Linked DNA regions of Homo sapiens: all the other regions are reported to be linked to region 1. The links are microRNA targets in miRTarBase. Many come from high-throughput screens and were not tested one by one. Region 1 holds a microRNA gene; each other region holds the end of a gene's coding sequence.

Region 1 (11,050 bases):
CAGGCTAATTTTTTTGTATTTTAAGTAGAGACATGTTGGCCAGGCTGGTCTTGAACTCCTGACCTCAGGTCATCCGCCTGCCTCGGCCTCCCAAAGTGCCGGGATTACAGGCTTGAGCCACTGTGCCCAGACAATTTTTTTTAACTTTTAAAAATGGTTACTGGAAAGATAAGTACATGTATGACGTATTACATTCCCCCCCTCCTTTTTTTTTTTTTTTTTTTTGAGACAGTCTCGCTCTGTCGCCCAGGTTCGAGTGCAGTGGCACAATTTTGGCTCACTGCAACCTCAGCCTCCCGGGTTCAAGCCATTCTCCTGCCTCAGCCTCCCAAGCAGCTGGGACTACACTCATGTGAAACCATGCCCAACTAATTTTTGTATTTTTAGCAGAGACGGGGTTTCACCATACTGGCCAGGCAGGTCTCAAACTCCTGATCTTGTGATCCACCCACCTCGGCCTCCCAAAGTGCTGGGATTACAGGCATGAGCCATCGCACGTGGCCACATTATATTTCTATTTGAGTAGTGTCTTAAGAGTAACAAACTGGCTTTCAGACACATACAATAAAGACAAAAAAATCCTAGTTCAATAAAGAATGAGAAAGTAGGATAAAGCAAATGAACAAATTTCCCAGGCCCAGTGCGGTGGCTCACTGGCCCGGTTCACGCCAGCACTTTGGGAGGCCAAGGCAGGTGGATCACCTTAAGTCAGGAGTTCAGGACCAGCCTGGCCAACATGGTGAAATCCCATCTCTACTAAAAATATAAAAACTAGCCAGGCATGGTGGTGGGCACCTGTAATCCCAGCTACTCAGGAGGCTGAGGCAGGATAATTGCTTGAACAAAGGAGACAGAGGTTGCAGTGAGCTGACACAGTGCCACTGCACTCCAGCCTTGGCGACAGAGTAAGACTGTCTCAAAAAAAAGAAAAAAATTTCCTTTCCTTCACTTATATTCCTGAAGATAGAGATAAGGTCTTCTCCCAACTGTACTTATACCTCAGGTAATATCAAGAAAGTAGTGACATGATATATTACAATTCATAGGCATTGAGTTGTGAGATTTGCTCCTTTGTATTAAGCACTTGAAGAATTACTAAGTTTTTCCAGCTCATCTAGGGTAGAAAGCCATGCCATTTTCTTAGGTCCACTGACCTCTTTACTTCCAACTTCTAGACTTAAAGATACTAGATAACAGCAGAGACCAAACATATGATTGCCAAGTCCCTAACCACAGTTAAATAAACCTCCACTTTTCAATCCCAGAGCTACTCTCAGTTTCCCAAAGGATGGGAGAATCTGAAGCAGGCAATTATTCTGTGCAAGCGTTCTTCAGCAGGCTGTAACAATTGCTAGATTGAATTGCTGTGGTCCAGAATCACACAGCAATTATTGCAAAGCACTGAACTACTCTTTAAAAAAAAAAAAAAAAAAAAAAATTTATGAGACAGGAGACAATTTAGCACATTCAACTTTTTAACAATTTAAAAGAGATTATGAAATATACAAATAAATAAGTTAAAAGAGCCCTATTTTTGCTCCAAATTAAGTCAAATTAATACACGTGGCTAATGAGAAAATAGATGACAAAGAGATATATGGTATAATGGAAACAAACAAGAGCATAATGGAATCTTGTTCTGAGTCTAATGATTTGAGCAAAGTAAGCTTTGCATCCATTTAGCTATTTGTAAAATAACAGTGATCTGAACTTTTTGATTCCTTCAAGCTGTTAAATTCTGTGCTATCAGCCGGGCGTGGTGGCTCACACCTGTAATCCTAGCACTTTAGGAGGCCGAGGCAGGTGGATCGCCCAAGGTCGGGAGTTCCAGACCAGCCTGGCCAACATGTTGAAACCCCATCTCTACTAAAAATACAAAAATTAGCTGGGCATGGTGGCAGGCACTTGTAATACCAGTCATTCGGGAAACTGAGGCAAGATAATCGCTTGAACCTGGGAGGCGGAGGTTGCAGTGAGCCAAGATCTCGCCGTTGCACTCCAGCCTGGGCAACAGAGTGAGACTCTGTCTGGGGGGGGGGGGGGGGGCGGAATCTGTGCTATCAAGAGAAATAAAATGAGATCATTTTGAAGGGAGAAAAGGGGTGAGGGTGAAAGCAGGAGAAAGTTATGGCCACTTCCACCCAGTATTTCTATTAAAACACAAATGCACTTCCAGAATTTTGTAAAAAGAGCAAAAAGGACTGAAAGTAAATTGTATAAAATCAAGATGATATGTCCATTTGCAAAAATAGTTTGTAAGTCTAAAGGTAATAACAGCAGATAGCTCCAGAGTAAAAATTTTAGTCTATAAAAAGTAGTCAGGTATACCTGAAGGTAGAATTCATTGGCATAGTGTATTTTAGTTTATTTTTTAATTTTATTTGCGACGGAGTTTTGCTCTGTTGCCCAGGCTGGAGTGCAGTGAGGTGATCTAGGCTCACTGCAACCTTTGCCTCCTGGCTTCCAGCAATTCTGCCTCAGCCTCCCGAGTAGCTGGGACTACGGGCACATGCTACCACGCCCCCCCTAATTTTTGTACTGTTAGTAGAGACGGGGTTTCACACTATGTTAGCCATGCTGGTTTTGAATTCCTGACTTCAAGTGATCTGCCCTCCTATATAGGTATAGATATAGATCAGTGCCTCCTATATAGGTAAACAATAAATATAATTATTTGTTGATACATTTCTTAGAATATTAATGTAACCCCAAAATTACTGGTAGGATAAATAAGACTTGGATCAACAGTGAACATATGCTTTGCATGTATGAAGTTTTTCAATATGACCCTGCTAATCTCCAAATGCCTAAGGGCGGGCAATATCCCCAAAGACTAGAACAATGCGTGGCCAAATATGTTAAATACACACACACACACACACACACACACACACACACACACACACAAAATTCCCCTGTGAAACTGGCCTACATTTCTAAATCACAAATTTAGCCAGGTAACAACCTAGCTTAAAATTCGTGGACTCTTTCTTTCACTTGGTTCTTCCAAAAAAGTTTCACACTGCTCATCACCGGCATAGTCATTCTAGCCTCTAATCACACAATAAAACCCACCACCTAATTCTAACCCACCACCTAACACTTAGCTCAAACCCTGTGCTGCTGGGGAAGTTCCCTTCTCCTCTACTCCAACTTCTTGCTTCGGGGCGGACTGTCTCTAGTCTGTCTGTTGTCTCCCCTCTGAATCTACTTGCTTTTCATTTTCCTTTTCTATAAGCTTTCTTGTCAAAAGGAAAAATTACTGATTGGACCAATTGACGCTGAACATGCCTTAAAAACTAGTAAACTATTCCAAAAATCTCCGTGATGATTTCATGTTCCGTTTCTTCACTCCTGAGAAAAGCTGTGCTCCTCCCCTTACCCTTGCAGACTATCCTGCCTGGTGGTCTGGCATCTTCCCGATGTCCCGTGGGCTGCAGAGATGGAATCAGGGGGTGAGGGGGAAGCAAAGCAAGGCAGAGCTGGGTACAGCCTAGAAGAGGTTAAATAAGGTAACTGCTCGAGCGAAAGCCATACGTACTGGAACGCCATCGGGAACCAAATTTACTAATATATAAACTCACGTTAGAACGCCATTACATGGTGGAAAGTACACGTGACACAATAGGCTTTCAACAAGTTCTAACAGGAAGTCACAGCACTCGACACAACGGAAGTATCCATTTTCGCGCCAAGAGCCAGGAAGCACTTTCTGTTAACACAAGTTTCCTGCACATCCCTAATTTTTTAGGCGCCATATTCCTCACTCAGTACTAACAAAGTGTATGTGGCTTCTCCTTAGCCAGACTCGATTACAAGCACTGCATGCATTACTCAGTGTGATAAGATCATGATAATCCCTTTAAAAAGATCGCCCGAATTTAAGCCTGGATTAGGAACACGTGTTTACAGCTCTAATATCGATAATTTAAGTGGCTCTTAAAAGAGCCTTTGGGGTTGGGCTTTAAGACGCTTACTTGGCAAGTTTACTTAGCGCTGGTGTACTTGGTGACGGCCTTGGTGCCCTCGGACACGGCGTGCTTGGCCAACTCCCCGGGCAGCAGCAGGCGCACGGCCGTCTGGATCTCCCTGGAGGTGATGGTCGAGCGCTTGTTGTAATGCGCCAGGCGGGAAGCCTCACCCGCGATGCGTTCGAAGATGTCGTTGACGAAGGAGTTCATGATTCCCATGGCCTTAGAGGAGATGCCGGTGTCGGGGTGGACCTGCTTCAGCACCTTGTACACGTATACGGAGTAGCTCTCCTTGCGGCTGCGCTTGCGCTTCTTGCCGTCCTTCTTCTGCGCCTTAGTCACGGCTTTCTTCGAGCCCTTCTTGGGCGCGGGAGCGGACTTCGCTGGTTCCGGCATGTTGAAGGCGAACTACGAGCCTGAGACGAGCAGCAGATCGAGAAAACGGGAAGTAATGGGAGCAAGGTACCAGGAGTCGTTTTTATATAGGACCTCTCATGCAAATAAGGTGAAGAGTGAAAGTCCTGTATCTGATTGGTGGTTATTAGGGTGACGTCAGAGGTTAGTTATACCCAATCAACCCAATCTGCAAATCCAAAAGACGTACTTCCATTGGTTAAAACTAAGCTACAACCCTAACCAATGACATATCTTCTTTTTCGCGCCCAATAGTGTTTATAAAAGGCGCTGCCTTTCCTCGTTGGCTACTTTCAGTAAGTTGTGACCAGTATGTCTGGACGTGGCAAGCAAGGCGGTAAAGCTCGCGCCAAGGCCAAGACCCGCTCTTCTCGGGCTGGGCTTCAGTTCCCCGTGGGCCGAGTGCACCGCCTGCTCCGCAAGGGTAATTATGCCGAGCGGGTTGGAGCCGGCGCGCCAGTGTACCTGGCTGCGGTGCTGGAGTACCTGACCGCTGAGATCCTGGAGCTGGCTGGCAATGCGGCCCGCGACAACAAGAAGACCCGTATCATCCCGCGTCACCTCCAACTGGCCATCCGCAACGACGAGGAGCTCAACAAGCTGCTGGGCAAAGTCACCATCGCGCAGGGTGGTGTCTTGCCCAATATCCAGGCCGTGCTGCTGCCTAAGAAGACTGAGAGCCACCATAAGGCCAAATAAGGAGCGAGGTTGTGAAAACTGGAAAACAAAGGCTCTTTTCAGAGCCATTCTACACTGTCTTAGAGAAAGCTGGACACAGTCATGTTTGTTTCACTTCATGTTTGCTTCGCTAGATAACATTGTAAAGCGCTTCTTTCGCGGTTGGGCTGGAGCAACTCTTTACAATGTTTCTAAATTAACCCACTGGAAAGCAATGAAGACCCAAAAGTTGTTGTAGGATACTCCGGAGAAGCTTATTCAGCAGGGGTAATAAGTGAAATCAAACGTACAAATCCCTGAAATCTATTTACTAATTCCAGTGGTTTTTTTTTTTTTTTTTTTTTTTTTGAGATGGAGTCTCCAACAGGCTGGAGTGCAGTGGCGCGGCGCGATCTCGGCTCACTGCAACCTCCACCTCCCAGGTTCAAGCGATTCTCCTGTCTCGGCCTCCCGAATAGCTGGGATTACAGGCACACACCACCACGACCGGCTAGTTTTTTTGTATTTTTAGTGGAGACGGGGTTCCACCATGGTGGCCAGGCTGGTCTCGAACTCCTGACCTCAGGTGATCCGCCCGCCTCGGCCTCCCAAAGTGCTGGGATTACAGGCGTGAGCCACAGCGCCCGGCCTCCAGTGTAATAATTCTATTACATTAATAGTGTTGTCAAACAGCCATAAAAATGGGATATACTTGCCATTCTTTAAAGGCAAATTTTGCAATTCTAAGTATTCTTGAAAAGCAAGAAAGGGCAGCCTGATTCTTAAGTGGTCTAACTCTTAAGAGTAACTTTACCCAGGTGATGAAAGTCTAGTGACTCATTTGCATTAGAATTTGATTCCGATGGAAGGAGAATATGGGATGCAGAATTTCCTGAATCCCATATTTGTAAATCCTTAGTCCCATTTCTTTGGAGCAGGTGTATTAATGCACTCTTGTAGTAGCTTAGGATACAACATAGCTTTTTCTGTCTAGCTAATTTGTATTATCAAATTTATTAGATCGGGATTGCTATTGCTTTTGATTGCTTGTCCACATTAATTTACCTACCCTAGGAAGCCCTATGAGTTTCCTTCCTCCGCCCCACCCCCTCTTGATATTACTTGGCCTGCTTTTACTTCATAGCCTCAAGGCTTTCTGGCTATTCCCACAAAATGCCAAACACATTTTCTGTCTTAAGGCCTTTGCACTTTAAATTCCCTCTTCCCCTGATAACTACCTTTCTCACTTTTTTTCAATCTATGTAGGTCTCTGATCAAGTAACACCTATAAAGAGGTCATCTTTGTTTATCTCCTCTCTAAAATGGAGGGCCCCATTACGCTCTCTATGCCTATGGGGATAGGATATATATTAATTGAAATATTACATGTATACATCTTTATTTTTTCTCTACGGAATTCAAGCCACTTAAAAAAGACACCAAAAAATAGTATTAACTTTATGTATTTCACAAAGATTTAAGAGGACATAGTTTGTAATTCAATACACATAGATTTGTTTGCTACTCCCAGTCTTTGCATGCAGAAGCCCAATTGAAAAAGAAATGCAAGAGATGCAGAACGAGAAATTATAATGTAGTGACATATGAGTTCTCGATAAACAGATGCTGAGATGGAGTTTGGGATGCAAAATGTTTATTAGGGCTCAATATCTGTGAAGGGGTGAAGGAAATAGGATTGGGCAAAGGAAAATGTCAAACTATGATACAGGCCAGACAAATGCTCAACCAACCCAGTGGAGAGCTCTGGAGCCAGTATGCCTGTCAAGTTGCCCCCACATTGGGCCAAAGGGGCTCTAGACCACCCTTTTTAACTCCTCTGTGGGTCACTGAATGAGGACTGCCCGGGGAAGGATGCAGCCTTGAGTGGGGAGGAGCTCTGCAGCTGAGGCAAACACTGAGGAAGCTAACAGCTGGTGTCTATCTGCTAACTGTGCTCTCTGCAGTTGGGCTGCAAGCCCTTCCTTGAAGGAGGATCTGGGCAGTGTATTTCCATGTCTATGACATATATTAACATGAATATAAATATCAATGTTAAGTAAGGTCTATGATAGTATCTGTGAGACTGACTTTAGCATGCATAAGTGCATAGCTGGTATTGCTCTTTGACTTTTTTTCTTTTTCTTTTTTTTTTTTTTGAGATGAAGTTTTGCTCTTCTTGCCCAGGCTGGAGTGCAATGGCCTGATCTCGGCTCACTGCAACCTCCACCTCCCAGATTCAAGCGATTCTCCTGCTTCAGCCTCCTGAGTAGCTGGGATTACTGGTGTGTGCCACCACTCCCGGCTAATTTTGTAATTTTAGTAGAGTCAAGGTTTCACCATGTTGGTCAGGCTGGTCTCGAACTCCTGACCTCAGGTGATCTGCCTGCCTTGGCCTCCCAAAGTGCCAGGATTACAGGCATGAGCCTGTAATTACTTTCATCAGGGAATTTAAAGGCCGGGGAGGGGCGGGTCTTTTCTTTTTAGAGAAATAAGAAAATGTACAGACATTCTAAAAATCTTTATTAGTTTGATATACTCCTGTAAGAGCTTTAAATGCCTCAATCATTGCACATGGAAGGTGATAGAAAACAATTATAAAAGAAATGGGAGATTCTTCCACTAACTTTTCCTACCCCAGATTCAGCAAATCTCTTTACTTTTCCTGTACTGAGAAATAATCCAGCTTTGCCCCATACTGAAGAAACTTCAGAATGAATATTTGAGGCTCAAAAGAGAGGAGAGGAAACCTTTAAAAAAACCATGGAATGAGTTTCTGTAGTATGGTGGTTATCACGTTAGTCTCACACGTGAAAGGTCCCTGGTTCGAAACCAGGTGGAAACACATTTTAGGCTGGGTGCGGTGGTTCATGCCTGTAATCCCAACACAAAAACTTAGCCGGGCGTGGTGGCAGCTGCCTATAGTCCCAGCTACTTGGGAGGCTGAGGCAGGAGAATTGCTTGAGCCCGGAAGGCGGAGGTTGCAGTGAGCCGAGATTGTGCCACTGTACTCCAGCCTGGGTGACAGAGTGAGACTCCAGCTCAAAAAAAAAAAAAAAAAAAAAAAAAACACCTATAAGAGATATTTGGTGCCGACCACTTATGGGCTACATATGCAATATGAATGTGCTTATTTATTTCTCACAACCTTTTGAGGTGGGTATTGTTTGGACTCTAATTTGGAAAAGAAAGTGTGGTGTTACTTATCCAATCAGATTCTCAATTAGTAGGAGAAAAAGCTATCAGAATATTATCTACTCAACATGGAACACACACATAACTGCCTTCTCTTAACTATCTGGTCTCATGTGCTTTAGTCTAAGGTATATAGAAACTTGGGTAAGAATTGTTAAAGGGAGATGTTGAAAGGTTCTACCAGAAGAGTATCATGATCATATCTGAATTAATAGATACCAAATGAGAAAGAATAAAACTAGACTTAATTATTCAAACAGTGTTTACAATAGTTTAAAGTGAATAGCTAAAGATTCCTGAAAATGGGAATCACACTTAAAATATATACTTTAAAAAAATATATTTTTAAAACACACACAATTTTTAAAATGCATACATACATGCTTTTCCTCAGTTCCGCCCTTCCCCCTCATCTTCATACCTATTACAGATGGAGTCGTTGTCATGCATTCCTTGTAAGGAATAATTCTGAGAAAATCAAAATAGTAAAGTCACATCTAAAAATATGTGAAGGTTTATACCCCAGAGGAGCTGCATGATTTAAATAATTAACAATGACAAAATATGGGAAATATATGTGATTATGGATAATGAAGGGTGCTTAACTAAAGACGGAATAATATAATTTTATATCAGGCTAACTATTGACATGGCTTCACTTACCTGGGAAGCTAGATTCTATGTGTAATAGTAAACACCTGGGAGGAATAGTGATTGTTTACAAGGCTGACTGGTATCTGGACTCAGAACTGGCCATCAGTAAATCAACTTGAGATCCCAAATATGCCTTGGAATCACACAAAGGAAAACACCAAAAAAAAAAAAAAAAAAAAAAAAAGGAGGTAAAATTGCTGGTGTACGTTGATATTGCTTGACTTATTAAAAGCTAACTTTATTCACAGCAGAATTGCTAACTTTTTTCTATTCACAGCAAAATTGCCATTTTTGAAGAAACCAGTGCATTTTCTAATTTACTTGAAGCTGTAAGATTTAATAAAATTAACGGACTGGAATTAGAAAGTGTATTCAGGGATTGGTCTGTCTGATTCTATCTGGTACTCCTGTAGCTTTGCACTTGCGATTTCCCAAGCCCAGAGTGTTTGTCCTACCAGCCTCTCCTTGGGTAACTCCTATTCATTCTTCAATTTTCATAATATGGCACCTCCTCAATGAGGTATTCTCTTATTCTTAGTTCTCGTTATGCCTTCTGGGTTTACCAGATCAAGTTCTTTTTTTATTTTTTTGAGACGGAGTCTTGCTCGGTAGTCCAGGCTGGAGTGCAGTGGCGCGATCTTCGCTCACTGCAACCTCCGCCTCCTGGGTTCAAGTGATTCTCCTACCTCAGCCTCCCAAGTAGCTGGGATTACAGGCGCGTGCCACCGCTCCCTGCTAGGTTTTTTGTATTTTTTCTACAGATGGGGTTTCACTGTGTTAGCCAGGACAGTCTCAATCTCCTGACCTCGTGATCTGCCGGCCTCAGCCTCCCAAAGTGCTGGGATTAGAGGCGTGATCTTCCGCGCCCAGCCCAGATCAGGTTCTTAAACTCCACATCATCACCGCTTCTCAGCCTTTTGGCTAAGACCAAGTGTTTTCAGCCTTTTGGCTAAGATCATCTGTTCTTATGGGTTTAAACTCCATGTCAATGACTATATTTTGAAAGTAAATATCTTATTTGTATTTTCATTTAATATCTGTAAACACAGCAGCATATAAGCTAAAAGAGGTCAATATGTCAGCCAGTGTCCCATCAGGAGAGATTAGTCCTTCAAATTGGGTACTTTGGGCCTGATGCAGTGACTCATGCCTGTAACCCCAACATTTTGGGAGGCCGAGGCGGGCAGATCACTTGAGGTCCAGAGTTCGAGGCCAGCCTGGCCAACATGGTGAAACCCCGTCTCTACTAAAAATACAAAAAAATTAGCCAGGCGTGGTGGTGGGCACCTGTAATCCCAGCTACTCAGGAGACTGAGGCAGGACCTTGAACCCAGGAGGCGGAGGTTGCAGTGAGCTGAGATTGCACCACTGCACTCCAGCCTGGGTGACAGAGCAAGACTCCGTCTCAAAAAACAAACAAACAACAACAACAACAACAACAACCAATTGGGTGCTTGAAGATTGAAAAAGAAGTGAGCAAGGTGTTAGGAAGCCACAAGAGATAGTGCAGTATTTTGAAGCTAATACCATATATAAGTAATTACCACACCTAGGCCCAAAGGGGCAATGAGAGGAAAGGAAATCTGGAAACAGAAAGAACTCCTTCCTCTCTCTGACATATTTTCACTTTTCATCAGCCAAATTTGACCAGCAGCCAAAGGACAAGGATCAAATTCATGTATAGATCAGCCTCCTAGGGACACAGGATGAAAGAAGGGGACAGTGGGCCGGGCACGGTGGCTCACGCCTGTAATCCCAGCACTTTGGGAGGCCGAGGTGGGCATATCACAAGGTCAGGATATCAAGACCATCCTGGCCAACATGGTGAAACCCCGTCTCTACTAAAAATACAAAAATTAGCTGGGCATGGTGGTGGCCGCCTGTAATCCCAGCTACTTGGGAGGCTGAGGCAGAAGAATCGCTTGAACCTAGGAGGCAGAGGTTGTAGTGAGCCAAGATTGCACCACTGCACTCCAGCCTGGGTGACAGAGCGAGACTCTGTCTCAGAGAAAAAAAAAAAAAAAAAAAAGAAGAGGACAGTGAATCTAGGCTGGCAAAAGTAAATATCTAGCACAGTCCATCCCTTTTGCCCTTTGGCATGTACTATCCTTTTCTCAAGTGAAAAGTCTGCATTGCATTCCAACATGGAATTTGTGAAATCA
Region 2 (11,050 bases), not on the chromosome of region 1:
GCAGACTCAGGTATGGATTTTAGAAAGATGTCTATATGGAGAATGGATTGGAAGAAATCAAGGTTTATCTGTGCAAGATGAATAAAACAGGGCCCCCACCCTTAAGGAGCTGAAAGTCTAAAAGGGGAAAAGATACCAGCAGGCAGTTAGAATGCAGGACAGTAAGTGCGGGGATAGAAATAGGCCAGGCAAATCCTTCAAGGAGGGATAAAAGTCAATCTTCAAACATTAACTTAAGCAGACCAAAAATTCTGATGACCACATCTAGATTATTTTTTATAAAAATGATTTTCACTATAGCTATGTTAGTTATGCTAAGCTACTGTCCAATCTCTTGTGATGTGTAACTTTTACATGTGAGTATTCAAGTAGATTTCTCTGTCAAAAAAAAAAAAAGAAAAGAAATAGGCCAGGATGCCATGGGAAAGCACCTGACTCAGGCTGGAATGAGCCTCAGGCCACTGTTTACAGCTGGTGTTTAGTCTCCACATAAGTCTTAGTCACAGAGGCCACCAGGCCACCACTCTTCTCCTGGAGACTTTTGGGAAGCTTCTGAGAAGGAATGAATGATGTGTGGCCCCAGCACAGCAGTACTCTTCTAAGAATTCACAGCTCTTTTTCTAAACTGCAAAGGTTTTTTAATGGCTGGACAAAAGCTGACTGCTAAATTTTTTTCATACAGAAGACCTGGATTCATGAGTTTCCTGGGAGAGAGGGAGAAGGGAGGCTCCCAATCCTTGACTTTATCTTGATCTTATCAGTTCCTGATCTGGTGGTCATGCAAGTAAATTGTTGTTTCAGGTTAAAGAACAAAGAGGACATTGTTTACCCCTTTGTTGTTAAAAAATGAAGTCTATTTTCAGATTTTAATCTCTGGACAAATGAAATGAGAGTTCTTGCTGTCTTACAGGTGATAAACAAAGGACTCTTTTTCTTGGGATCACTGATAGCCATCAGCAGTACCTACCTACTTATACACTACATGTCACCACGATCTTTCCTCCGCTTGAGAAGACCATGGAACTGGATAGCTCACTTCCGGAATACAACATGTTTCCCCGCAAAGGCCGTGGACTCCCTAGAACAAATTTCCAATCTCATTAGCAGGTGATAGAAAGGTTTTGTGGTAGCAAATGCATGATTTCTCTGTGACCAAAATTAAGCATGAAAAAAATGTTTCCATTGCCATATTTGATTCACTAGTGGAAGATAGTGTTCTGCTTATAATTAAACTGAATGTAGAGTATCTCTGTATGTTAATTGCAATTACTGGTTGGGGGGTGCATTTTAAAAGATGAAACATGCAGCTTCCCTACATTACACACACTCAGGTTGAGTCATTCTAACTATAAAAGTGCAATGACTAAGATCCTTCACTTCTCTGAAAGTAAGGCCCTAGATGCCTCAGGGAAGACAGTAATCATGCCTTTTCTTTAAAAGACACAATAGGACTCGCAACAGCATTGACTCAACACCTAGGACTAAAAATCACAACTTAACTAGCATGTTAACTGCACTTTTCATTACGTGAATGGAACTTACCTAACCACAGGGCTCAGACTTACTAGATAAAACCAGAAATGGAAATAAGGAATTCAGGGGAGTTCCAGAGACTTACAAAATGAACTCATTTTATTTTCCCACCTTCAAATATAAGTATTATCATCTATCTGTTTATCGTCTATCTATCTATCATCTATCTATCTATCTATCATCTATCTATCTATCTATCTATCTATCTATCTATCTATCTATCTCTATTTATTTATGTATTTAGAGATCAGGTCTCACTCTGTTGACCAGGCTGGAGTGCAGTGGTGAGATCTGGGTTCACTGCAACCTCTGCCTCCTGGGCTCAAGCAATCCTCCCACTTCAGCCTCCCAAATAGCTGGGGCTACCATGGTATTTTTCAGTAGAGACCGGGTCTTGCCATGCTGCCCAGGCCAGTCTCAAACTCCTGGCCTCATGTGATCTGCCCACCTCAGCCTCCCAAAGTACAGGGATTAGAGTTGTGAGCCACCGCTGCCAGCCCAGAGTTACCCTCTAAAGATAAGAAAAAGGCTATTAATATCATACTAAGTGAAGGACAGGAAAGGGTTTTATTCATAAATTAAATGTCTACATGTGCCAGAATGGAAAGGAAACAAGGGGAGACAACTTTTATAGAAATACAAAGCCATTACTTTATTCAATTTCAGACCCTCAGAAGCAATTTACTAATTTATTCTTCGACTACATACTGCAGCAGAACCAGCAATACACTTGATTTTTAAAAGCACATTTAGTGAAATGTTTTCTTTGGTTCATCCTTCTTTAACAGGCTGCTGAGTCACTCAGAAATCCTTCAAACATGATTAATTATGAAGATGAAACACTAGAGTCATATAAGAAATAAAAATTGGGCAATAAAATAAAATGATTCAGTGTTTCTTTTCTATATTGTCAATGAAAACCTTGAGTTCTAATAATCCATGTTCAGTTTGTAGGGAAAGAAAAAATAATTTTTCCTTCTACCCACTTTAGGTTCCTTGGCTGGGGCCCCTATAACAAAAGACAGATTGACAAGAGAAAAACAAACATAAATTTATTAGCGGGTATATGTAATATATATGTGGGAAATACAGGGGAATGAGCAAATCTCAAAGAGCTGGCGTCTTAGAACTCCCTGGCTTATATAGCATCGACAAAGAACAGTAAATTTTTAGAGAAACAACAAAACAAAGAAAAAGAGCTTTGAGTCTGTAGGGGCAGCAATTTGGGGGAAGCAAATATATGGGAGTTTGCCTTGTAGATTCCTCTGGTGCTGGTCTCCAGGCTGACAAGGATTCAAAGTTGTCTCTGAAACTCCTCTTTGTCATACTGCACATATAAAACGTCTTTTGTTTCCAACAAGAGGATTTTCTTTTTCATTCTAGAATTATCTCCTTGATAACTTGATCAGATATAGGACATGACACTGAATAGAGTCCAACAGTACAAAAAAAATTCAGTATGTTCTAGCTACTTCACACATGTGTACGCGACAGTTATTTTTACAGTAAGGTATTTTCGAGAAAAATGCATTACGTGTTTTGGAAAATAGAGTAATTTAAAAAATATATTTGAAATGAAAATCTCCAACACATTAGAAGATGATGATGTTAGATGCCCATCGTGTGCCACAAGTGGTTTTTTCATTATGTAAAGCACCCGTTGAATTAAAAGAATTTGTTTTTGTTCAACCTCTTCCTGAGGCCCAAGAGCATATGGGCAATTCGGATTTCCTGCTGGACCACAAGGTTCTGTTGATATTACATAGAACGGGTATTCCAGACACTTCTTATGATGAAAGTCCAAAAGTGGCATCCAATTTAAGGCCCCATCTTTCGTTGCCATTCTTCATTCCTACAAAGGACGAACTTGGATTACATCAACTTTGGACCCATTGGTTTTGTCGCTGTCGTCAACTGACAGTGATTCATCACTGGTGATGATAAAAATGATGGAAGAAGAGTTGAAAGTCACTTTTTTCTTTGGCCTGTCCCCATCTTTCTGTGACATCACAATGGGTCTGATCTGCATTTCACTTCCAGCTGCTGGTAGGTCTTTAGCAGGCCTCTGGCACCTCAGCAGTCGGAGGCACAGAAGCTGCAAAAGGGATCTTCGAAACTGGGCAGAGAAAAAATAAAGTGGAATATTAAGTAAAAGTTGGGCACTAATCTGGATTAACATTCGAGGAAATCAGTTGAGCTGAATTTAAGTTGTTTTTTGTTTGTTAGCAGGTGTGGATGTGGGGTTATGTGGTCATGCTCAGATCTACCTAAATCACCCCAGAGCTTTATGTCTTTTATTCATTCTAATTCTTATTAACCGGAATATGTAGGACCATTTCAATACCTTGTAATCCTCCAAGCTTCAATCTGCACACACTTTCTATGAGGGCAGGTACAACTATTAAGAGATTTTGAACATTAAGTTAGTCCACAAATATTCAGTGGGCATCTACTAGGTGACAGCCACTGTGCTATAATTAGAGACTTTTTACTATAAGCATCAAAAACAGATAAGGCTCTTCCTGGCAGAGTTTACAGCCTGGTGTACTTGCTAATGTCTCTTTAATTAGGTGAAGAATTTTTTTTTTCTATCGAAATTACTAATCAGTTGGGGAAAAAAATACTATAGCAGACAGCACTAATGTCATCAACAAACATTGTTCTTCTCCGTGTCCTGGGTACAACATCGAATAATATTTCTTGGCCTCCTTTCCGCTTCTCCTCTCTGCTGTTCCTCTCTACAAGAACCTGGGAGGCCAACGCCTAAAGATCATAATATCACACAATGGAAGGAACCTAGATTCCTAAATGACTGCATAGGACAGATCCCATCTCCTCCACCCAATACATTATTAGACTGAACTGTGACCTGAAATGAGCAATAAACTCTGTATTAATTCACTGAAATGTTGGGGTTGCTTGTTATAGTAGTCGGTCCATCATGACCAGTAAAACATAAATCAAAAGTTAATGTAATTGTTATCCCATTATTTAGAGCGAAATAAATGTTGAATATATGGACTTTCTCAGATTAGGAAATACCAATTAAAAATATAATAAATAGCTACATTGATTTCTGTCTTTTTTGTTTGTTTTTTGTTTTGTTTTGTTTTACAGCAAACACTGCCTGATAATGTCTTGAGCTCCAATCTTATGCAAGTTAGCATTCAGTTTATACTCACATTTAAAAATATTTATTTTTTCTATCTGATTCAAAAATTTAAAAAATAAAAATATTTGTTTGAGACTTTATTCACTAAACCATTGTTTGGTTAAGTGTTAAAGATACATTACTGTAAAGGTTAAATAGAGTATGTATGCCAAAAAACGTTTTTCCATATAAATGGTAAGCTCTTTGAGGACAAGGACCGTTGTTTTTATTTATTTGTTTTTGTTTGTATCTTTTAGACTTCCTGTTTAAAGTATGCCCTTAGGAACCAGAAACATCAGGACCATGTGGGAGCTTGTTAGACATGCAGAATATTGGGCAACCATACATACTGAAGGAGAATATTCATTTATTACAAGATTTCCAGGTGTGGTGTATGCACATTAAAGTTCTAGAAGCACTAATTTATAGCCCATTGGCTGAGAGAAAGAGTGCAACAAATAATTGTTAGTTAATGTATTTTAATTTTGTCTGTTGAGAGGGTGGTCCCTAAAATATCTTAACCTCTGATAGAAAATTAAAGTTATAAACCATCTCACTAGAAAAATTCATATGTGTGCATACTAAAAAATTGTTATAAACAATTTCCAGGGTTTCAGTGGCTCTTCTGAGGCCAACTCAAGGAATGTTTAGGTCCTATGGACTCCAAGTTTAAAATCTCTGGGTTAAAGGAAATAGACCAATTGAAGGCAACAAAACAGGGAAAGAAACACTGTCAGTGAGAGGAGATTAAGGCAGGTGAAAGTGAGTTTATGGAGAGTGTAAGCCAATAATACTCAAAGAGAAGGAAAGGCAAAATAAGAGGCAGAGAGATTTAGCACTGAACATAATAAGGTTATTACAAAAGTGCCCTCTTCTTCCACATTCTTGAGCATTAGAAGTCACAGTGATTATTATTGCCTGTTATTATTATGACCTGTTATCTTTAAAATTCCAATGGAGTAATTAAGCATTATCTTTAACTTTTAAATTCTCTGAAACGTAGAGGCTCAGCTTTATAATAATCATTTTGTGGGCTCTCCTAGCCATGACTCATAGCCATCAAGTCAAAACCTTTCAACTACAGAAACAGATGATAAGGAAGTTCCTCTTCTTTTTGAGACAGGGTCTCGCTCTGTCGCCCAGGCTGGAATGCACTGGTGCGATAGTGGGTCACTGCAGCCTTGACCTCCTGGGCTCAAGAGATCCTTTCATCTCAGGCCCCTGAGTAGCTGCGACTAAGGCACATGCCACCATGCCCAGCTAATTTTTTCTTTTTTTTTTTTGAGAGAGCGGGGCATCTCATTATGTTGCCCAGGTTGGTCTTGAACTCTTAGCTCAAGCAATCCTTCTGCCTCAGCATGCCCAAGTGCTGGGTTTACTGGCTTGAGCCACCACACCAGGCCCAGGAAGTTTCTTGAACCAAATTAATTTAGGCTAGACATTTGCTGTGGCATGTGAATAACAACCCAGGCCAATTGCTACAAGTATCTATAACCCCAAGTGAGGAGTTATAAGCACTGGATTTGGGGATTTGAGCAAACTAGGTTCAAATCCTGGCACCAATACTTCCTGGATTGGGCAAGTTATTTAACTTCTCTGAACTTATTCATAACCCATAAATAAAACAAGGAATAATATTAGTGCCTATTTTGTGGAGTTTTGTAAACTGGCTTGTAACTTGTTTGTGACTTGCTTGTAACTTGCTTGGTACAGTAGGAATTTTAAATGTATTATTAACATTGTAGCTGTTATTACTAGGCATAAACTATTTTCTGATGAATTAAATATTAGTTTTACTAGAATTCTACCTAACAAGTGTGAATCCCTATGGGTAGTTCTTAGAATTGTTATGATTTTCTTTGGAAATATTCTACATTTCTTCCAGATCCCTTTAATTCCTAAAAAATTCTTGTTTTTTTTTTAATTGAAGCGACTCTGAATCACCTCTGTAAAAGTATTACACTGTCATTTCCAACTCTATGCCCAGGGTGAAAACAATCAGTTAATTGCAAAGCTTACCTTTCTGATCATGAAGACATAAATCACTGGATTGTATACAGTGTTCGATTTAGCAAAGAGGTACGAAACAATAGATATTGTTGGAGTGACCAGGTGACCATGACCATTAACCACCAAGAAGCAGATCACGATATAAGGCATCCAACAGACCAGGAAGGTGAATATCATTAAAAAGCACATTTTGGCCAGTTTCTTTTCATATTTTAAAATCTTGATCACTTGAATTGTCTGAAGATCTTCCACACAACGAAGCTGCAGAAAGGAGAAAGAAAGGAAAGGGCTTAAAAAACAAAAGAAGGGTTTCTTTTGTTGTTTTTATAACAGATATTCAGACACCATTCTTGGCCCCACCTAAATGGAAAGAGAACTGAATGGCACCTTGGCAGGCTGACTTCTGATCCAAGACTCATAGCTGAGTCCAGCTTTAACCTTGCCGGGCCTCAGTCTCCCCACTTACAACATAGGGTGGTTGAGCTACAGAGCCTCCTACATCCTTCAGTGTTTTTTTTGACGTTCTCTTATTTACTTAATAAGAATAACATTATTTTGCCTAGATCTTCAAGTCTCTAAAAGACAGCCTGAGAGAGTCACGATAAAATGCAAAGAATTTCCCTGTGATCCTGGAAACTCTATAGAGTGTTAGTCCTCCAGTTCTCAAATCAGACTGCACACCCATGTCATGTCAGGTGTTCTGCATGATTAAGCCTGCAGCTGGCCTTGATGAGCACTTAATTCCCAAGTGAATTCTTACTGAAAACCAGCTTTTCAATTCACTGCTAATGACTGTAAAGTAGAATTTCAGGAGAAATTTGTTTGTGATTGGCTTCATTAGGGGATCACTTGCAGAGAACAGCACTTGGTAAAACAACTCCTTCCTCTAAAACCAGCCTGTCTACTCGCAGTCTGTTCCCATTAAAGGGATGGAGGAGTAATGATGTACAGCCTGAAAGTTCTTTGAGTTTCTTGAATATGTTTCTTTTTGCTGTTTCTCCTATTATTATATATGTGTCATAATAATACACAGGCAAAGAATATTTCTGCACACCAAAAATGTGTTCCTAAATCAAAATAGTTCTCTCTAAACATTGTAATAAGTTATATGAATTATACTACAAAAATACAAATACTCTATATATTGATTTTTTAAGTAGTTAGCATATAGTTAATACTTAGTATTGATTACTTTATGCCTGGAAATTTACTGCATTTCAATGAACTCTAAGTGTACCTTTTGGTTCTAGCATTATCATAAAAATTAAGAGAAAGAATTTCCAAAGAAATCATTTAGAACATGTGCTTAGATTATTTAGAAATATATTTTAATTAAAATTCTCAAATTACTGATATCCAAAATTATATTTAAGAAATTATATTCTTATCAAAATCATGTATTCAGATTAGCAAAGAATAGAGAGAAATAGGAAAAATTTAAATCATTGATTTTTTTAGGGTAGAGAGACTATGTGCAGGGAAAAGTGGGTATTAAATTTCTGGTATTAGTTTGGTGCAAAAGTAATTGTGGTTTTTGCCATTAAAGGTAAACCTTTGAAGGTCACCTTATTTAAAGGTAAATAATATTCCTTTACCACTATGCCAATTACTTTAAAAAATCAATATATAAAGTATTTGTATTTTTGTAGTAAAATTCATATAACTTATTACAATGTTCAGAGATAACTATTTTTATTTAGGAACATATTTTTGGTGTGCAGAAAGGTAAATAATTTACCTTTAAAAAAGGTTACCTTTAAAGGTTTACCTTTAACGGCAAAAACCGCAATTACTTTTGCACCAACCGAATACTACTATTCTGTGTGTGCAATTCTATTTTAAAAGAAACTGTTTTATTTAATGGGATAGAATATTTTTCTATTTTCAAAACATCATTTTGGGGGAGCTTCCCTAGTTTATAGGAAGGCTGTGGGGTTTTGATAAAAGGTCTAGATTTGGAATTAGAAGATCTAAGTTTATATCCCAGATTAACCACTTTTGCTCGCAGTGTGATATTGAGCAAGTCAACAACCTCCTCTAAGAGTAAACAAGAAAGGAGGTAAAGCAAAAAAACCTATGAGAATTAACAGAACTTGAGTTCCATTTCCACACGTATGACTTTGTGGGGTTGTTTTTGAGGTTAAATACTTATTTATATTTGAACTAGATATGAGACTAACACACTTGTATGTATATGTACATTTATGATACTATAGGATATCTGGAATCATTATTGACTCTTCAGAGTTTCAATTAACAAGCAACATAACCACATCTCAGTTATCTGCCTCCCAAACCTCCAGTATTTAGGTCCAATCGTTTTATCTGTACCATTTTCTGGGCAGGTCAGTCTTTATCCCCTCTCGCCATTTATCAAAGGAGAACACTCATTTATCCATCTTGGAATTACATGCATGCTGGGGAAATTAATTTAAATAAATGTTTGTCTATACATCCCCAGTTCCTCTTTGGGATAAGGAGAAGATATTGACTAATGTTTTAGATTATTTGGGTTTATATATGTGAAGTTTTCATGATTATTTTTTATTTATCTTTTTCAGGCCTCTTTCTTTCATTACTTTCTATTCCTTCATTCTGCTCATTAAATATTTTCCAAATAAAAAACTCGATTTCATGTCTTACCCTCTTTATTCAATCATTTGAGGATAGTTTTCAAAATTGCTATGGATGAAGCAATTTTGAAATGATTGGCACAGGCACAAATTTGTCCTAAAGAATGAACCAGCTAAGACAAATTCTTCAGAATTCTCTATCAGATTGTTCTCTGGCTGTATAAATGGCTGGTGCCTAGTGCTCCTTAATCCAAGACATCTGTAGATTTTCAAAGAATTTCACTGTGAATCTTCATTCTCAAGTGTGTAGCTATGTCTCCATCGTTGTTATGAGTCACCTCTCTCTGAATAAGGAAACGGAGGCAAATTACTTGCAGTGAGCTCTCTGTTTAGATAGCAGCTAAAGTCAAATCTCTTCACACTTTCACCCCTTCTCCTGTCTTCCCCTTTCTATGCCCTCTGCTTGTAACTCATTCCAAAAATAGTCACTGATTACCTACTACATGCAGACACTGTTCCAGTCACAGGTGAGAAAATACATAAGACCCAGTCTCTGCTCTTGAGGAATTCACTATTTGGTGAGGATGATGCACACTGAGCGGGTAGAAGCCATGAGGGAGGTAAACAGGGAGGATATGGTAGTACACAGGATGGGAAACTGGTTCTGAGGGTGGGTTAGAGCAAGAAAATCGTGCTGTTAGCCTTGTGAGGGAAGGAGGAATTAGTCAAGTAAGGAGGAGAGACAGAATGTTCCAGAGAAAGAAAGTGTGCTAAGACAAGAGGCAAAATAAAAAGTCAGTTTCTGAAAACAAGAAATATTACCATTGGCCGCATCATGAGGTGGCAAGAAGACAGGAGTGTCAAGAAATGAGGCTGGACAGGTAGACAGGAGATGCCATACAGGACCTGCCGGCCACACCCAGGGGCTTTATTTTGAGTCACAAAGACAGTGGAACTTCTGAAGGTAATACTTGAGAACAACTACTCTGATGGCAGTGTGTAAAGAATGGAATAGAGGAAAGCAAAAATTTTAAAAAGGAGAACTAAGTTTTTTTTTTTTAACTGAGTCTGTGGCAGTGGGAGAGGAAAAAATGGATATACCAAAAAATATAGGGCTAGGAGCAGTGGCTCACACCTGTAATCCTAGCACTTTGGGAGGCCAAGGCGGGCAGATCATGAGGTCAGGAGTTCGAAACCAGCCTGGCCAACATGGTGAAACCCCATCTCTACTAAAAATATTTTAAAAATTAGCCAGGCATGGTGGTGGGCACCTGTAATCCCAGCTACTCAGGAGGCTGAGGCAGGAGAATTGCTTGAACCTGTGAGGCGGAGGTTGCAGTGAGCCGAGATTCTGCCATTGCACTCCAGCCTGGGCAATAAGAGTAAAACTTCGTCTCAAAAAACAAAACAAAACAAAACAAACAAACAAACAGAAACAAAACGAAACAAAAAAACATGTAAGTGGCATGGATAAGAACTGATCAATAGTTGTGTGTTGGGGGAGACATGGATGACACATAGTCAAAGATTACTCCCTAATTTCTGGTCTTGGTATCTAGGAATGATGACTATTCAATGAGAAAGCAAATAGACGAGCAGAAGATTTTAGGGAAAATATGACAAATTAATCTTTATATTTGTTAAATTTGATGAGTCTGTGGACCATCCAAGTGGAGGTGTTCAAGAGGCAATTGACTACGAGGATCTGTTAGAGGCTGGAAGAAAGACCTGAACTGGAAATGGAGATGTTATCAAGCTTGTGTCAGAAGGAGAAATCCTGGCA
Region 3 (11,050 bases), not on the chromosome of region 1:
AGTTCTCAGCACGGCTTTCCTTTTAACAAAAAGCAGCCCCCAAATCATTTCTTTTCTAACAAAGAACAGCCTGTAAAATTGAGCTGCACACATGGATAAGCAAGCTGGAAGCAAGCTGGAAGTTTACACGGGTGAATGCCGGTAGCTGTGCCAATAGAAAAGGGCTACCTGGAAGTCAGGATGTTCCACATGGAGGCTCCGTCTTCCCTTTGCTTTGTCACCACATGTACAGTAAAGGAACAGTCAGCATGGCACCAGCCAGGTGGAGAATCCATATGCATAATAAAAGGTTATGGTGGGGTGGCCAGCTTCTTTGCGCTATGTAAATGGCACACCTGATCTGAGCAATCTTTTGGGCCCTATGTAAATCAGACACCACCTCCTCAAGCTAGTCTATAAAACCCTGTGCATTTCAACACAGACCCAGAAGATGTGCTCTTGGGAGCCCCTCTCTCTGCAGGAGAGCGCTTTTCTCTTTCTTTCACCTATTAAACCTCCACTCTTAACCTCATTCCTTGTGTGTCTGCATCCTTGATTTCCTTGGTGTGAGGCAACCTCAGACATTATCCCAGATGAACAACAACGCTTCACTAGGACCACAGGTGATAGTTTTTAAAATTCTTTTTGTAGGGATGGGGTCTTGCTCACTATGTTACCTAAGCTTGTCTTGAACTCCTGGCCTCAAGCAATCCTTCCACCTTTGCCTCCAAACTGCTGTCCTGGGATTACAGGCATGAGCCACCACACCTGGATTATATTCTTTTTTTTTTTTTTTTTTGACATGGAGTTTTGCTTTTCTTGCCCAGGCTGGAGTGCAATTGCACAATCTCAGCTCACTGCAACCTCCGCTTCCTGGGTTCAAGCGATTCTCCTGCCTCAGCCTCCCGACTAGCTGGAATTACAGTCATGTGCCACCACGCCTGGCTAATTTTGTATTTTTAGTAGAGACGGGGTTTCTCCATGTTGGTCAGGCTGGTCTCGAACTCCCTAACTCAGGTGATCTGTCCGCCTCGGTCTCCAAAGTGCTGGGATTATAGGTGTGAGCCCACGCCCAGCCTATATTCACATTTTTAATGAACACAGTCCACTCACTGTTTTCAAAATAAAGTGTTTATTTTTTGTTTGTTTGTTCAATGTTTCTTTGTGATTGGATTTAGTCTGAAGTCTGTTCAACTTACACCATGTCTTTTTATAATGCCGGGCTCCTGTAGAATTGCAGAAAAGAAAAAAGATTATTTAAAGATAACCCAAAACCTGGCTGGGCGCAGTGGCTCACGCCTGTAATCCCAGCACTTTGGGAGGTGGGCGGATCACCTGAGGTCAGGAGTTGGAAACCGGTCTGGACAACATGGCGAAACCCCATCTCTACTAAAAATACAAAAATTAAATGGGCCTGGTGGTACACGCTTGCAATCCCAGCTACTCCAGAGGCTGAGGCACGAAGATCACTTGAACCTGGGATGTGGAGGTTGCAGTAAGCCAAGATCATGCCACTGCACTCTGGTCTGGGTGACAGAGACTCTGTCTAAAAAATAAAAATAAAAAAGAATAAAGATAACCCCAAACCATGTTAATCCCATATATCATCCACTCAACAGATCTTTACTCAGTGTCTACTGTGTTCCAGAGGGTACGAAACGAGCTGGGGATAATAAGATGAATAAGCATGGCACCTTTTCTAAAGGAGCTGTCAGGTCAGTAAGACCTGATGATTTGTATACAGCCTAATACAATAGAAAATGTCATAACAATTTTTTAAAATGCCATCCTATGGAAGAATTCAGGATGGCACGCGTTCACCTTTGACTTCATAAAGGAGGTAGCTTCTGAGCTAAGACTTGAAGAATGAGAATATGATCAGTCATTCAAATGGCAGATGTGACAATGTGGCTTATTCTGGGAAGAGCAAGTTGCTTAGTAAGTTTATGGGCCAGAGTGATGTGAGAACTTGTAGGGGGTAAGATTAGACAGTGTTCAGCTGGGCGTGGTGGCTCACACCTGTAATCCCGTGCTTTGGGAGGCTGAGGCAGGTGGATCACCGGAGGTCAGGAGTTCAAGACCAGCCTGGCCAACATGACAAAACCCCATTTCTACTAAAAATACAAAAATTAGCCAGGCACGGTGGTGGGCACCTGTAGTCCCAGCTACTCAGGAGGCTGAGGCAGGAGAATCACTTGAACCCAGAAGGCAGAGGTTACGGTGAGCCGAGATCACGCCACGGCACTCCAGCCTGGGTGACAGAATGAGACTCCCATCTCAAAAAAAAAAAAAAAAAAGAAAGAAAGAAAAAAAGATTAGACAGTGTTTCAGGCCACTACCTGAAGGCTATTAAAGATCAGAGGGTGTGATTAGATTTAAAAATTAGAAAGATCACTTTGGGTAAGTATGGTGAAAGGTTTGCAGTAAGGGGAAACTGGAAGGAAGGATACCAATATAATTTAGTTGAGTAACAGGGATCTATACCAGATGAGCAAGGATATAAAGAGCTAATTAGAAGCAGAATGGAATGAGAGTCCGCTCTTTGAAGACAACTTCAAATCCTTCCAGCTTCCATGCTCAATTTTGCATAATACACCAGTTCTTCAATCTAAACGTCACACTTCCCCACTTCACTTCCTCCCCTAAGAAGATTATTTCCTGGTTCATTGTGTCAGACACTCTCCTTAATGCCATAGGTTTCCTTTCCCCATGGTCCTTCCATTGCTCCTGTCCAAGCAACCTTCATCCTCCAACATCTACCTTCCCTGCACATGCACTCAGGCTACTAAGTGCTGCCAAAAGAGGCCACCAACTTCACAGGTAGTGCCACAATGAATAAATGGTTGCCAATCTCAAATGGGCTCTCGATGATGCTTAGTCAAAAGACCACTTTCCCCATGTTATCTCACTCTCCTATTCTCTGCAACTACTTTCTTTTCTCAGTTTTCTCAAAATCCCACTTCCCCTTACCCTCTCAGCAGATGACCTTTCCTCTTGCACCAGCAAAAAAGAGAAATTATCAGGTAAGAACTATGCCAGCCTCCTACCACCAAACCTACTGCCTAATCTTTCCCTTCACCTCCCTAGGATCTCCTTTCCTCCTGCCTTCCCAGATATCTCAGCCCATCAAGTACTCCTTTTTTTAATCTCTATCTTCAACCTCTCCCTCTCTACTACCCTTTCTGCTCAGCATTTAATATATGGAAGCCTCTCCCCACAAATTGTCCATTGACTAGCTCCTCCATGTGCTGTTAAATTTACCTACCTCTTTTCTCCTCTGCACTGCCAAATGTCTTGAAGTTGCCTCCCTTCCATCACTCCCCGTCTTCCTCGGCCTAAACTGGCTTCTGTTCCACTCAACCATAGCATCTGTTTCCATTGAGGTCACGAATGGCCCCCGGGTTGCTAAATCAACTCTTTTAATCTTTTAGTCCTTACTTTTCCCTCTCAAAACACTTTCTTCTCTTAGCTTCTGTGACACCACCTTCTCATTTTCTTTTGCCATGAATATTACTGTCTCCCAGGACTCTGTCCTAGGTCCTTTTATCTCCCTACACTATATGGGAGAGAAGGTCTGCAGGGATCTGGAGCACCTCAAAATCAAGTCCAAAACTGAACTCGTCTTCTGTATCAAAACTGTTTCTCCTATCGATCCTCCCCATTTCAGCAAACAGCAGCAATACCCCATTGGTTAATCCAGAAATAGGATTTATGCTTCACTCCTTATTTCCATTTCCCAAAACACTCAGTTGATTCACCAAGTCTTGTTAATTCTATCACCTCAATATCATTCAATTTCTTACATTTGTTTTCATCCATCCCCATTGCTACTGGCCTCACCTTGTGATCACCATCTCTCACTTGGATGATCAGAACAACTTTCCAACTGGTTTTCCCTGCATTTATGTCAGTTTTTCTCAATCATTTTTTCCACTATCACCCCCTATGGAGCATGTTAGATTTTTTTCCCCAAATTGTTCCTTCCCCTACCATAAAATTTTAATACCACAAATGTACTATATATCTGCTCATGTATGTATAGCTATGCTTTGTACATAAAAAAGTAAGATCTTTTTATCCCCCAAGAACCAATTTTTGTCCCCTTTAAGGATAATATTGATTCCATTGAGAATGAATAATTTACACTCACTATCTTTAATTTGTTCTCCGCCATGTAGCCAGCGTGATCTTTAAAAAACAAATCCAATCATGTCATTTCCCCATTTAAAACACTTCAATGACATCTCATGGTCCTTAGGATGAGATCCAAATCTTCACCGAGAGCTGAAATAGTGCAAATAATCTCATCCGCACTCTCACCTCACTCACTTATGCCCTATATTTCAGGCTTCTCCAAACGGTTTTCATTTCAATTTTCTCTTGCCTCTTATTTTCTCTACTTGGAATATGGTATTCTTCCCCTCCCTCCACGCATCCTCGGGTTACAGCTCACAGTCATTCCAGTAACCCTTGGGCTACCTTGGGACCCCATAGCTTACTCCAAGTGCTTACTCCAAGTGCCTTTTTCTTTCCCTTGACCAATATTGAACACGTTTAACTATTTGAACTTTTAAAAAGTTAGCATAAGAATCAATATAAACACATATATTAGCTTTAATTGACACTTTTTTTTCCCAAGAAACACTTTACAACTTAAAAAAGAAAAAAAAGGTCAATCCCATTTTATTTTACTTTTTTTTTTTTTTTTTTTTTGAGACAGTCTCGCTCTGTCACTCAGGCTGCAGTTCAGTGGCATGATCTTGGCTTACTGCAACTTCTGCCTCCCAAGTTGAAGCGATTCTTTTGCCTCAGCCTCCTGAGTAGCTGGAATTACAGGTGTATGCTACTAGGTTCGGCTAATTTTTTGTATTTTTAGTAGAGACAGGGTTTCACCATGTTGGCCAGGCTGGCATTGAACTCCTGACCTCAAGCAATCCTCCTGCCTCATCCTCCCAAAGTACTGGGATTACAGGCGTGAGCCACGCACTCCACCACAAAAGCTGATCCCATTTTTTATACGTGATCCCAGCTGTGTTAAATAAAGCCTAGAGGAAACTTCTGAAATGTCTTTATGAACGTTAGGATTATCAGTATTTATTGTATATTTTCCATATTTTTTATTCTAAGCTTTTCTTACATTTATAATAGTAGAAAGGAGAAAATAAAGTAAAAACTACAACTGTCAAAAAACATCCTGTAGGTTATTTTTTTAAGGTGAATATATCAAAGCATATAAATCTAGGATCATTTACTATCACCATGTACGAGAGCTATCTGCTTCAATTCTCTTTATCCCTCTTCTACAAACTGGTTTGCATAAGCAGGGGCTTTAGAGAAAATATGCCCTTCTCCCAAATCCTTTGGCAGAATTATGAGGTGGTAATTAGATTGCATAGGGAAATCTAAAAACAAAACAAACTAACAACAACATAAACCTAGGAATGAATTTATCCAAAGAAGTGAAAGATCTCTACAAGGAACACTATACAACACTAATTAAAGAAATTGAAGAGGGCACCAAAAAATGGAAAGGTAGATATCCCATACTCGTGGATTGGAATAATCAACATTGTTAAAATGTCTGTACTACCCAAAGGAATCTACAGATTCAATACAATCCTTATCACAATACCAGTGACATTCTTCACAAAAATAGAAAAAAAAATTCTAAGATGTATATGGAACTACAAAAGATCCCACATAGCTGCCAGTGTCTTCAACAAATTGTGCTGGGAAAACCGGATATCCATATGCAGAAGAATGAAACTAGATCCCCATCTTTCACTATATATAAAAATCAACTCGAAATGGATTAAAGATTAAATGTAAGACCTGAAACTATAAAACTATTAAAAGAAAACATTGGGGAAATGATAGAGGACATCGGTCTGGGCAAAGATTTTTTTGGGTAAGATCTCAAAAGCACAGGCAACAAAAACATAGAAAGACAGATGGGATTATGTTGAGCTACAAAAGCTTCTGTAGAGCAAAGGAAGCAATTAAAAAAGTGAAGAGACAACCTACAGAGTAGGAGAAAATATCTGCAAACTATCCATATGACAGAGTTTGGATATTCGTCCCCCCAACTCTCATGTTGAAATGTGATTCCCAGTGTTGGACGTGGGGCCTGGTGGGAGGTGATTGGATCATAATGGCAAATTTCTCACGAATCGTTTAGCATCATCCTGTTGATGCTGTCCTCACAATGTTGCAGGATTTTTAAGGAATCAGAGAGACCGATGGGGTTCAGGAGAATATTTATTATTTAGGTGCTCCGGCCCAGTCAGATTAACATCCAAAGGACTGAGCCCTGAACAAAGAGTTAAGTTAGCTTTTAAGCATTTCGTGGGGCAGGGGGAGATCTGTGCAGGGGGAAGCATATTACAGAAGCAAGAAACAAAGACAGTTATTCAGTCAAGACATGCATTACATCATTTCTTACTTTTCAAGGAAAAACATGTTTTGCGACTTGAGTTTATCTGTCTAGTGACCTTGCAGCTGCACAGCTAGGGAAACAGGGTCTTCACAATGCCTGGGAAGGGAGGAGAGCTAACACTCACTAGCCACCAGAAAAACAGGCAGTGAATTTTTAAAGGACTCCAGCTCTTTCTCTTTCTCAGGGGGAATTGGGTTTTCTTACGTACAACTGAGTTTCTGCTTACACACTCTTTGATTTCTTTTAATTCCTTTTCTAACAACAATGAGTTCCTGAGAGATCTGGTTGTTTAAAACAGTGTGTGGCATCTCCTCCACCTCTCTCTCTTGCTCTCTTGCCATGTGATGTGCCTGCTCCTGCTTTGCTTTCTGCTATGAGTGAAAGTTCCTTGAGGCCTCCCCAGAAGCCAAGCAATGCTGGTGCCATGCTTCCTGTACAGTCTGCAGAACTATGAGCCATTTACACCTTTTTTCTTTATAAATTACCCAGACTCAGGATTTTCTTTATAGCAACACAAGAATGGCCTAACACACCATCTAACAAGGGATTCATAACCAGAATATATAAGGAACTCAAACAATTCAATAGCAAAAAACCCATAACCTGATTAAAAAATGGACAGGCTGGGCGCAGTGGCTCACACCTGTAATCCCAGCACTTTGGGAGACCAAGGTGGGTGGATCACAAGGTCAGAAGTTCAAGATCACCCTGGCCAACATGGTGACACCCCCTCTCTACTAAAAATACAAAAAAATTAGCTGGGTGTGGTGGTGCACACCTGTAATCCCAGCTACTCAGGAGGCTGAGGCAGGAGAATTGCTTGAACCTGGGAGGCGGAGGTTGCACTGAGTCGAGATCGCACCACTGCACTCCAGCCTGGGTGACACAGCAAGACTCCATCTCAAAAAAATAAAATGGACAAAAAGGCCAGGCACGCCTAAAGTACCTGCACTTTGAGAGGCCAAGGTGAGCGGATCACTTGAGCACAGGAGTTCAAGACCAGCCTGGGCAACATGGTGAAACCCAGTCGCTACAAAAAATACAAAAAAATTAGCTGAGCATGGTGGCACTCGCCTTTGGTCCTAGCTATTTGGGTCATCCTGAGGTGGAATGATCACTTGAGCCCAGGATGTGGAAGCCCAGATCACCTCCAGACTGGGTGACCCCAATTCAAAAAAAAAAAAAATTTAAAAAAAGGGCCAGAGATCTGTATAGACATTTCTCAAAGGAAGACATATGAATGGCCATTAGATATGTGAAAAAATGCTCAACCATAATTAGGGAAATGTAAACCAATACCACATTAAGATATCTCACCCCAGTTAAAATGTTCATTTGAAAAAAAAGAAAAAATAACAAATGCTTGTGAGGATGTGGAGAAAGGGGAACGCTCATCCACCATTGGTAGGAATGTACAGTAGTACAACCACTATGAAGAACACCATGAAGGTTCCTCAAGAAACTACACATAGAATTATCATACAATCCAGCAATCCCTTTGCAACCTGTGTCCATCAACAGATAAATGGATATAGAAAATGTGGTATGTATGGACAATATTATGAAAAAGAATGGGATTCTGTCATTTGTAGCAACATGGATGGAACTGGAGGTCATTAATGTAAGTGAAATAAGCCAAGCCTAGAAAGACAAATATTGAATGTTCTCACTCATATGTGGGAGATTAAAAAATGGGTCTCATGGAGGCAGAGTAGAAAGGTGGTTACAAGGCTGGGAAGGGAAGGGGAGAGTAGGAAATTCAGAAAAGTTAGTTAATGGTTACAAGAATACATTTAGATACAAGGAATAAGTTCTAGTATTTGATAGTACAGTAGGTAAATTATAGTTAACAATAACATATAATAATATACTTATATATACTTCTAACTTGCTATATCTTATTTTGAAATATATAACTATATTTTGAAATATATGTATATTCAAATACCCTGATTTGACCATTATACTTTGCATACATGTATCAAAATAGCACATTACAAGTACATTATCAATAAAAATAATAAAGTTATTTGTTGAATGAATGGCCTGTGGCTTTTCAATTCACTTGTGTGTTTAGGCAGCAAAAAATTATTTCTCCATTTGGCCTTAAGTGGAGACCCACTGGCCTGAATCTTAGGAAGCCTGGGTTCATTTTTATTTTTATGAAGAATGTAAAACATACTTCTAAGATGAGATGCATTGATAAGCTGTTACAGGTTTGAAAATCCTGAATGTTTATGGTAAAAAGCCATTTTGGAAGTTGAAGTGTAAATGTTTTAAATGTTTATTTTTGTAAATACTGAGTTTGTGTTTAACATCTGAGCCTCAGGTACTAAATACTACCTCTTGTCATTTTGAAAATAATGTTGGGTGCAGTGGCTCAGGCCTGTAATCAGCACTTTGGGAAGTGGAGACAGGCCAATCACCTGAGGTCAGAAGTTCAAGACCAGCCTGGCCAACACAGCGAAACAGTCTTTACTGAAAAATACAAAAATTAGCCGGGTGTGGTGGTGGGTGCCTGTAATCCCAGCTACTTGGGAGGCTGAGACAAGAATTGCTTGAACCCGGGAGGCGGAGGTTGCAGCCGAGATCACGGCACTGCACTCTAGCCTGGGTGACAGTGCAAGATTTCGTCAAAAAAAAAAAAAAAAAAAAAGAAAAGAAAATAATGTTAAAAAATGCAGTTATTTAATATAGTGTCTAGCAGACAATAAATGCTTAATAAATGAGTCATTTTTAGCTTTTACTCACATTTTATAATCTCTGCAGGAATCACATTACCTAGTGCAACTACTTCCCCAAAAAAGGACTCTAAGGGATCCCAGAGATTGCATCTAGGAAAAGAGCGTGTGTGTGTGTGTGTGTGTGTGTGTGTGTGTACGTGTCTGTGTGTCTGTGTGTAGTTTAAAAAAGAACAATACATGGCAAAAAAAAAAACCATGAAAGCATTATAAACTTTAAAATTTGTTTACTGAGAATCTGTTTATTAAGGAGTTAACATTTTAGAGTTGGTTCAATACTTTATGGAACTTAAAATCCTGAGTTGCCCCTCAATAATACAGACATCTACAGTACAGGCATTTGTACAAAATACTATAATTACTGGTGCTTAACATTATTAGACTTCTATAACTTCCATTTGTCAGGTAAATAAAACACTAACCTTTCAAAGTTGCTACAATTTTAGGAGTTCACAAATTCCTATTTCTCCAGTTTTTATTAGTACATTTTAAACCTTCTTTGGGGACTGGAAGCCAAACTCCTCAAACAAAAGCCTCAATCTGAACCAACACTGAGAGACAGTAATGTCAGAGGCTCTTTTGTTTTTCACGGAGAGCAAAAATACAGAATATATTTATTAATTTATTTTCCAATAAAGAGAATATACTTTGTATTTGGAGAAAAAAATGCTTAATTGTCAGGAGTTGCTTTCGGAGAATGATCAATAAGTTCCTTGTCAATTGTCTCATAGTAATACCAGGGTCCATCTCCTCTCACATGCATCAATTTTCGCACTTCCAGCTCCTTTACCCTGTAACAAATGGAACAGCAATATTGAGATTCCAGCACTTCCAATTATAAATTTAATGAGCCATTTCCATAAAGGACAATCACTGGAGTCTGCTTTTATGTAAAGTATAATGCTCCTCCACAGACCCTTATGTAGGCATACATCTGGTATATATCTATAACCAAAATTTGGGACTTATTTTTGACTTTTATTATGTTGCTTATATAGATAGCTATCAAACAGTTTTTTTGTTGTTTTTGTTTTTTTGAGACGGAGTCTTGCACGGTTGCCCAGGTCAGAGTGCTATGGCGCAGTCTCAGCTCACTGCAACTTCTACCTCCCAGGCTCAAGTGATCCTCCTGCCTCAGCCTCCCAAGTAGCTGGGACTACAGGGGCCCACCACCATGCCCAGCTAATTTTTGTATTTTTAGTGGAGACAGGGTTTTATCATGTTGGCCAGGCTGGTCTCTAACTCCTGACCTCGTCGTGATCTGCCTGCCTTGGCCTCCCAAAGTGCTGGGATTACAGGCGTGAGCCACCGCACCCGGCCTACCAAACAGTTTTTAACACCAAAACATTACTCAAATTGATAGCGAATTCTCTCCTTCAGTGTGCCTGCACAGATCACTTTCATCTGAATTGTTACAGTGCTTTTCCTATCTTCTCACCTTTTAGATGCTAGGAGAGTCATTTACAGAATGTCTACTACTATGGCCATATGCTGTGCCAGGTGTTAGGAATTAACAAATGAATAAGCTTTTTTGGAGTTTCACATCTTGTGTCTGCCTATCACCATTAGGACAGAAAACTTTTCGAGAGTAGAACTGGTTTTTTATTCACCAGCATTATACCAGGCCCGGTCAACATCAGATACTCAGTCAATATTTATACAAACATAAATAGAAAGCAAGAAAAATCAAGATTAAGAAAAATATTCTCCAACTCTAACATCTACTTACTTGTCCTTGTCCTTCTTCACAAATTGAATAATCTCTTATTTTATACAGGTGCTTTCCCTCTTCCATATCTAAGTCTTTGCACAAACAATCACACATTCCTGAAGTAGTCCCTTCTCCATCAAACCTTTTACTTTCTGTTTTTATAGAATACATAGTTTTTCATAG

The links. The annotated mature microRNA hsa-miR-3143 reads AUAACAUUGUAAAGCGCUUCUUUCG and lies in region 1 at 5,198-5,222, shown strand. An mRNA with a match to its seed (bases 2 to 7 or 8) in the 3' UTR can be bound and repressed. Matches are read on the target gene's strand: a 7mer-m8 pairs with bases 2 to 8, a 7mer-A1 pairs with bases 2 to 7 and ends in A, and an 8mer does both.
Region 2: miRTarBase lists KMO as a target of hsa-miR-3143. Seed matches in the 3' UTR shown: 7mer-A1 at 1,254-1,260 and 7mer-A1 at 1,505-1,511.
Region 3: miRTarBase lists NDUFB5 as a target of hsa-miR-3143. Seed matches in the 3' UTR shown: 8mer at 9,525-9,532, 8mer at 9,410-9,417, 7mer-A1 at 8,727-8,733 and 7mer-A1 at 6,268-6,274.

What each region holds. Positions count from the first base shown.
Region 1 is chr6:27,142,432-27,153,481 of GRCh38, forward strand. It overlaps MIR3143 (microRNA 3143), which reads left to right and starts at 5,195; the gene lies at 5,195-5,257. It overlaps H2BC12 (H2B clustered histone 12), which reads right to left and starts at 4,424. Exons shown (of 1, transcript NM_001312653.2): 1 at 3,930-4,424. The coding sequence starts at 4,367. The coding sequence ends at 3,987. It overlaps H2AC12 (H2A clustered histone 12), which reads left to right and starts at 4,675. Exons shown (of 1, transcript NM_080596.3): 1 at 4,675-5,131. The coding sequence starts at 4,698. The coding sequence ends at 5,084. RefSeq lists enhancers at 3,322-3,431, 3,851-4,767, 4,022-4,481, 4,812-5,061 and a silencer at 6,841-6,890.
Region 2 is chr1:241,591,043-241,602,092 of GRCh38, forward strand. It overlaps KMO (kynurenine 3-monooxygenase), which reads left to right. Exons shown (of 15, transcript NM_003679.5): 15 at 911-4,600. The coding sequence ends at 1,111. It overlaps OPN3 (opsin 3), which reads right to left. Exons shown (of 4, transcript NM_014322.3): 3 at 6,704-6,955; 4 at 2,082-3,649. The coding sequence ends at 3,386. Among named protein-coding and RNA genes, the nearest start is that of CHML, 44 kb to the right of the region's middle.
Region 3 is chr3:179,622,817-179,633,866 of GRCh38, reverse strand. NDUFB5 (NADH:ubiquinone oxidoreductase subunit B5) reads right to left here. Exons shown (of 6, transcript NM_002492.4): 6 at 6,220-9,947. The coding sequence ends at 9,827. Among named protein-coding and RNA genes, the nearest start is that of NDUFB5, 24 kb to the right of the region's middle.